Regions from separate parts of the Homo sapiens genome. Here region 2 is linked to region 1. Evidence: fine-mapped expression QTL. A gene starts in region 1. The other region holds a variant in brackets. All regions are shown on one strand. Distances are between the middles of the regions.

Evidence for each region. PIP is the estimated chance that this variant, and not a neighbour inherited with it, causes the effect.
Region 2: its variant is fine-mapped to the expression of EPDR1 in prefrontal cortex (CommonMind, PIP 0.95).

Annotation. Positions count from the first base shown.
Region 1 is chr7:37,919,416-37,922,325 of GRCh38, forward strand. It overlaps EPDR1 (ependymin related 1), which reads left to right and starts at 1,225. Exons shown (of 3, transcript NM_017549.5): 1 at 1,225-1,793. The coding sequence starts at 1,525. RefSeq lists a silencer at 1,470-1,919.
Region 2 is chr7:37,951,888-37,954,797 of GRCh38, forward strand. It overlaps EPDR1 (ependymin related 1), which reads left to right. Exons shown (of 3, transcript NM_017549.5): 3 at 1-49. Among named protein-coding and RNA genes, the nearest start is that of EPDR1, 33 kb to the left of the region's middle. The variant G/GCAAA (reference allele first, on the strand shown) is at 1,781.

The sequences.
Region 1 (2,910 bases):
TCTCCTCACTCAGGACTGGATTCCCAGTGGCCCAAACCAGAAACCTCTCTCTCTGAGTTGAAATGCTTCTCTACAGCTCCCACCTGTCTTCCACCCTTTCCATGACCACTCCCGCTGCCTTAGCTGAGTCAGGATCATCTCTTTCCAGGATGATAACAGTAGCTTCCTCCTCTCCCTGCCTTCCCTCTGGCCCTACCCTTTCTGTTGTCTAAGTGGGCTTTCTAAAGCATATGCCTGATGATGCTCCTCCCTAGCTTTACATTGATTGATAGTTCCCACAGTCCTCAATATCAATGACAAATTCCTTAAAATGAGTGCTATGGCTTCAGAGTACTCCTCTACCTTGTCCTTGAACCCCAGCATTATTCTTTTCTTGTCCTTATGCCCTTCATTCAGGAATGTTATCTCCCACTTTCACCTGGCTCAATCTTAATCATCCTTGAAATGCAGTTCAAATGGAAAGACGCTATACATTTTTTTAGTTCCTTTCTTTTTTCTTGATTTCATACTTTATCACTATATTTTTAGAGACAGGGTCTCGCCATGTCACCCAGGCTGGATGGAGTGCAGTGGCATGATCATAGCTCACTGCAACCTCTAACTCCTGGGCTCAAGCGATCCTCCCACTTCAGCCTCAGGAGTAGCTGGGACTACAGGTGTGTGAGCCTCGCTCATTCCATATTATAGATCCTAACATTACATAACTATAAACCCAATTAACCTTATTCTTGAAGAAGCGAAACCCCCCAGACACCCAAACCACTCGGCTGGTGGTATTGCCAGGCGATGGGAGGAGCAGTCTCACTGCAATGTGACCTTGAGGCTATGTCCATGAGTCCTAGGCCCAATGCAAGGGGCTGTCTACTAGTCTCCTAGACTCTTCACTGGGAATGGGAGCTGAGGAGCGGCCATGATGAATAGCTAGTATCATTTCTTCAGGAAAAGACTCGTCTTTCCACTTTTAATTTGGAGGAAGAAGTTTGCAATTTTGTCGAGGGGCAATGTAGGCGGGGCAAACGTTTGCACAGCAAACGCAGCAGCTCTGCTTTTCCTATCTTGACCTTGAACTTGCCCCTCCCTGTGTGATTACCTGTTGAACACTGAAGTTAGTGGAGAAACACACTTCTCAGCACAGTCTCCCCCCATCCCCCCTCTTAAAACACGATGCCTCCCAGGATGCTAGTGGCACCACTGCCACTGCATTTCCTGTTGGCAGCAGTGAGCAGTGAAAACCGAAGCGGCAGAAGGCAGTGGCAGCAGGCAGTGGCAGCAGGCAGTGGCCCAGGCAGAAATAGCTCCCGCGCGATTCACTGGAGCCTTCCCCGGGCCCTGGTCCCGGCTACCGGGACTCGCGCGTCCGGATCTCAAAAGCGGCAGAGGCCACCGAAGGGACAGGAAGCACTTTGGTCCAGACCACACTCCCGGCACAGTGCGGAAAGAGCCGGCGGGAGCCACTCTGATCCCGGACGCCTCAGCGCCCCCTTGGGCTTGGGCTTGCCCTCGGGCCGGGGAAGGCTGACCGCGATGCCAGGACGCGCTCCCCTCCGCACCGTCCCGGGCGCCCTGGGTGCCTGGCTGCTGGGCGGCCTCTGGGCCTGGACCCTGTGCGGCCTGTGCAGCCTGGGGGCGGTGGGAGCCCCGCGCCCGTGCCAGGCGCCGCAGCAGTGGGAGGGGCGCCAGGTTATGTACCAGCAAAGTAGCGGGCGCAACAGCCGCGCCCTGCTCTCCTACGACGGGCTCAACCAGCGCGTGCGGGTGCTGGACGAGAGGAAGGCGCTGATCCCCTGCAAGAGGTACAGGTCATCGGCCCGCGGGGCGGGAGTAGGGAGCCGCGCGGGCATGGGGAGGGCGAGGTCGCAGAGGCCTGCGCCCTGTAACTCTTTCCGGCCCCTTGCAGCTCCTCCCTTCTCCCAGAGAGATCTTTCGCGAGGAGGGTCTCTTGGGGATAGCATGGTCCGGGACTGGGAGGGGCGCTGCGCCCACCGAGGGCGGCCTGCTGGCGGGGGACTCAGTAACACCCAGCGAGGCGGTGGCAGGTAAAGAAGGGACCCATCCAGGGCGGGATCAAGCTGCAGAGTGCCCCATGCCCAGGTTCGCCCCTGTTCTCACGCTGCTGAGTCAGGCTCTGGGCTCATGGAGCCCCCTGCAGTCTAGGGCGTGTCTTCTGCGCTATCTCATTTCTTTCTAGAGACATCTGCTAGAGAGGCACGCAGAATATGTATTTTCTAAGAAATACTTTTTGTATTTTAAAAGAATATGGCAAGATTACAAACGGTATGGGAAAGTGATAAAAAGAAAATTTCACCCACAAACTTAGCAAATTGTTACAGCATTAAAATTTTGGTCTACTCCTTTTAAGTTTTTTGTTTATTTTAAAGCAAATTTTACATACTATGATCAAAAGCCATACGTTATCTGAATCTTTTTTTAACTTAACATTGTCCCTTATATGTTCTTATTTGCCATTTTATTAGCTTGCCTCCTATTTTTAATGGCTGCACAGTATCGCTTACAGGGGCAAAGCTGTAAGTTTCTTTTAAGTATTGGTCTGACCATTCACCTTTTCACATCTGTTGTGACAAAGGAAACCCTCTTTTTGAGATGTCATCTCGCTTGTGGCCCCTTTAAGACCTGATTTCTAATTTGGGATCACCACCTGTCTCCCTTCCAGAGCCCTGCCGTTCCCCCTAAGTGTGTTCCTCTCACTGGCCTCTCTTTATGGCATTTGCATCATTAGGAGTTGCAAAGTGAATTTCCATGGTTTGAAACGCCAATGGACTGTAAGATCTATAGCAAAAGGGCACCATTAGTTTATAGAACAAAACCAAACTTGATAATATCATTTATTCTAAAAGCATTTGTTCAAGTATTAGGCGACTTGAAGAAAGTACGGAAAGGGCAGACCCTTTC
Region 2 (2,910 bases), 32 kb after region 1:
GGGAGTTAAAACAATGCTGTAATAAATAAAGTGCTTCATGTGATCAAAATCAAATTTGTTATCCTCTCTCAAAAGCCTGCTCTCCCTCTTACCTTCCCTAAACTCCAGTGTCCATTTGCCAAGGCCAGAAGCTTCCAAGTCATTCTTGATCCATTTGTCTCCCTCAGTCCTCACTGGCAGTCAATATCCCGAGTCCTATCAAAATAGCTCTTAAAACTTCTGCCTCTTCTCCACTCCCTCAGCCACCACCCAGCTCTGGGCTCTTAACATCATTGGCCTTTGCAGGATCTTCACACCCTCTGTCCTTGCCCTCGTCTTTTTTCTCTAGAAGCCATCCTGTGTTCATTCATTCATTCATTCATTCACTTGGTCAGCCAAATCACAAGCCAGTACTAAGCACCTGCTCCCTCCAGTGCCCATGCAGGTTCCTGGGGTTGCAGAGGATTGTGAAGTTTGGCCATGCAGGCATCTGAACCTCACAGACAGGGAAGAGTTTCGCAGCTGCATTCTAGGTGGCCCAGCCTGCTAACGCCTTTGTGACCATGTTTGCCACACTTCCTGTCTCCCCAACCACAGAATGATCCTCTCCTCTCCAAGCTGCACATCTCTCCTTAGCCCTGGGACTTTGTCTTTGCCCATTGCAGGCCACAACCTTACTCAGAGAGAGAAGGAAACTCCTTTTATTTTATGGAGGCCCATGCAAAGTGGGTACCCTTTTGTTTTTCAGTTGGCCTGTTTTGGTTATTAAGCCACTTCACAGAAAGGAGTAAAAAGTCCAGAAGGATTTGACATCTGGTCACATCTGATCTGATGGCGCCCTGCCTCTGTGGTTCTTCACTGCTTACAAGTAAAGTGGAGACCCCATAGCATGGTGGACACACCCTTTTTCATCAGGCCTCTGAGTCTTCCCAGCCTCACTCCTTGGCACAGTTTCTTCTTTCCCTAAATGCCCAAAGGGCTTGAGGAGTAATGGCTGGGTCACCTCTTGGTGGCAGGAAGGTTTCCTTACTCTGCAGTCTTATGTAAAAACTTTCTAGTGGCCACCAGAGTCACAACGAAGAGGGCTATTAAATAGGTGTGGACTTGTACCTATTAATAAAGTGCAGTATCCCAGTGCCTCACTCATCTGCAGAGGTGGTATCACTGATAGTGGTCTGAGCCAGGGCTGGGTACCACTTTGTGGATACCCCACCTCATATGTCTCTGAACTTTATGCTGCACTGGAACAATTTACTTCTACTTCTCCAAATGAAGCCTTGCCACTTCCAAATTGCCAGGATCCAGGCAAGCCCCAGGGTGTGCTTGACATACACCTGCCTTCAACTCTGCCACCCTGAAGGCCCAGCTCTACGACAGAGCCTTCACTCCCCCTATCTCATGGGCCATGTGGAGTCAAGGAGGCCCAGCCTTTCTGTCCCCAATTGCTCTGTCATCAGGGTGAGTTTCTTACCATAAGCTTTGCTAATTGAGATTCCTAAAATTGGGACACATTTTAAAATTCTTTAAATATTTAATGAAGGCCAAGAATTTTAGGTCTTTGGGAAATTTTTCAATTAACTACTAATAATTTCCCGCCAAATTAAATTTGACATAATTTGAAAACAAAACGCTCACCTCTTGCTGGGTTTCCTTTACCAAATCCACTTTCTCTGCAGTCCCAGCTACTCAGGAGGCTGAGCTGGGAGAATCGCTTGACCCCAGGAGGTGGAGATTGCAGTGAGCCAAGATTGCACCACTGCACTCCAACCTGGGCAACAGAGAGAGACCCTGTCTCAAATAA[G/GCAAA]CAAACAAACAAACAAACAAACAAACAAATAAAAGCCTTCATTTTCTCAATGTTGCCTCTGTTATTTTAAATCACTTTGCCTATATATCTACCTGCAGCATATGGGGTGTTTTTACATTTTTCCACTTACGTAGATCTTGTCTTTCTACATCCACAGAAAGCACCTCAAATGCAGGAATGCCATTCTTGTCATTCTTGTTGAGTGAAAATAATTTATATTGAATGACAGAGTAAGCCTCCTCAGCCAAAGACTTGTGAATAACTGGTGATATTTGAAGGCTTTGTAGGTGAACACCTCTTTAAGAGACAAATTTAACTTTATTTATGGATATTCTGATATCAACAACCATCTCTTTTTGGAATGATGCTAAGATAATAAATGATTAGAACATATTTTTATTTGTTTTAAAGCAGAATTATTAGCTCAACTGCATGTGTAGAAAAAATACTGGGCCTATGATTTGTTGTATAGTTTATTCAGGGAGAGAGATGCTTCCCTTAATGATATCCTAATTTTAAAATTTATACTGTTTTCATTAGAGCAAAAATGAACACTTATTTTCAATATTTATTTCATATTTAAAGTTGGAAAATATAATGTAGTCTCAGCATTCAAGGAGTGGGCTATAACTATCCTATAATTTAGAAATAATATCAAAGACTTGGAACCAACCCAAATACCCATCAATGTTAGACTAGATAAAGAAAATGTGGCACATATACACCATGGAATACTATGCAGCCATAAAAAAGAATGAGTTTATGTCCTTTGTAGGGACATGGATGAAGCTGGAAACCATCATTCTCAGCAAACTAACACAAGAACAGAAAACCAACCACCACATGTTCTCACTCATAAGTGGGAGTTGAACAATGAGAACGCATGGACACAGGGAAGGGAACATCACACACTGGGGCCTGCCAGGGGGTGGGGGGCTAGGGGAGGGATAGCATTAAGAGAAATATCTAATGTAGATGATGGGTTGATGGGTGCAGCAAACCACCACAGCACGTGTATATCTATGTAACAAACCTGCACGTTCTGCACATGTACCCCAGAACTTAAAGTATAATAATAAATAATAATAATAACTTTTTTAAAAAGAAATAATGTGCAATGAATACAACAC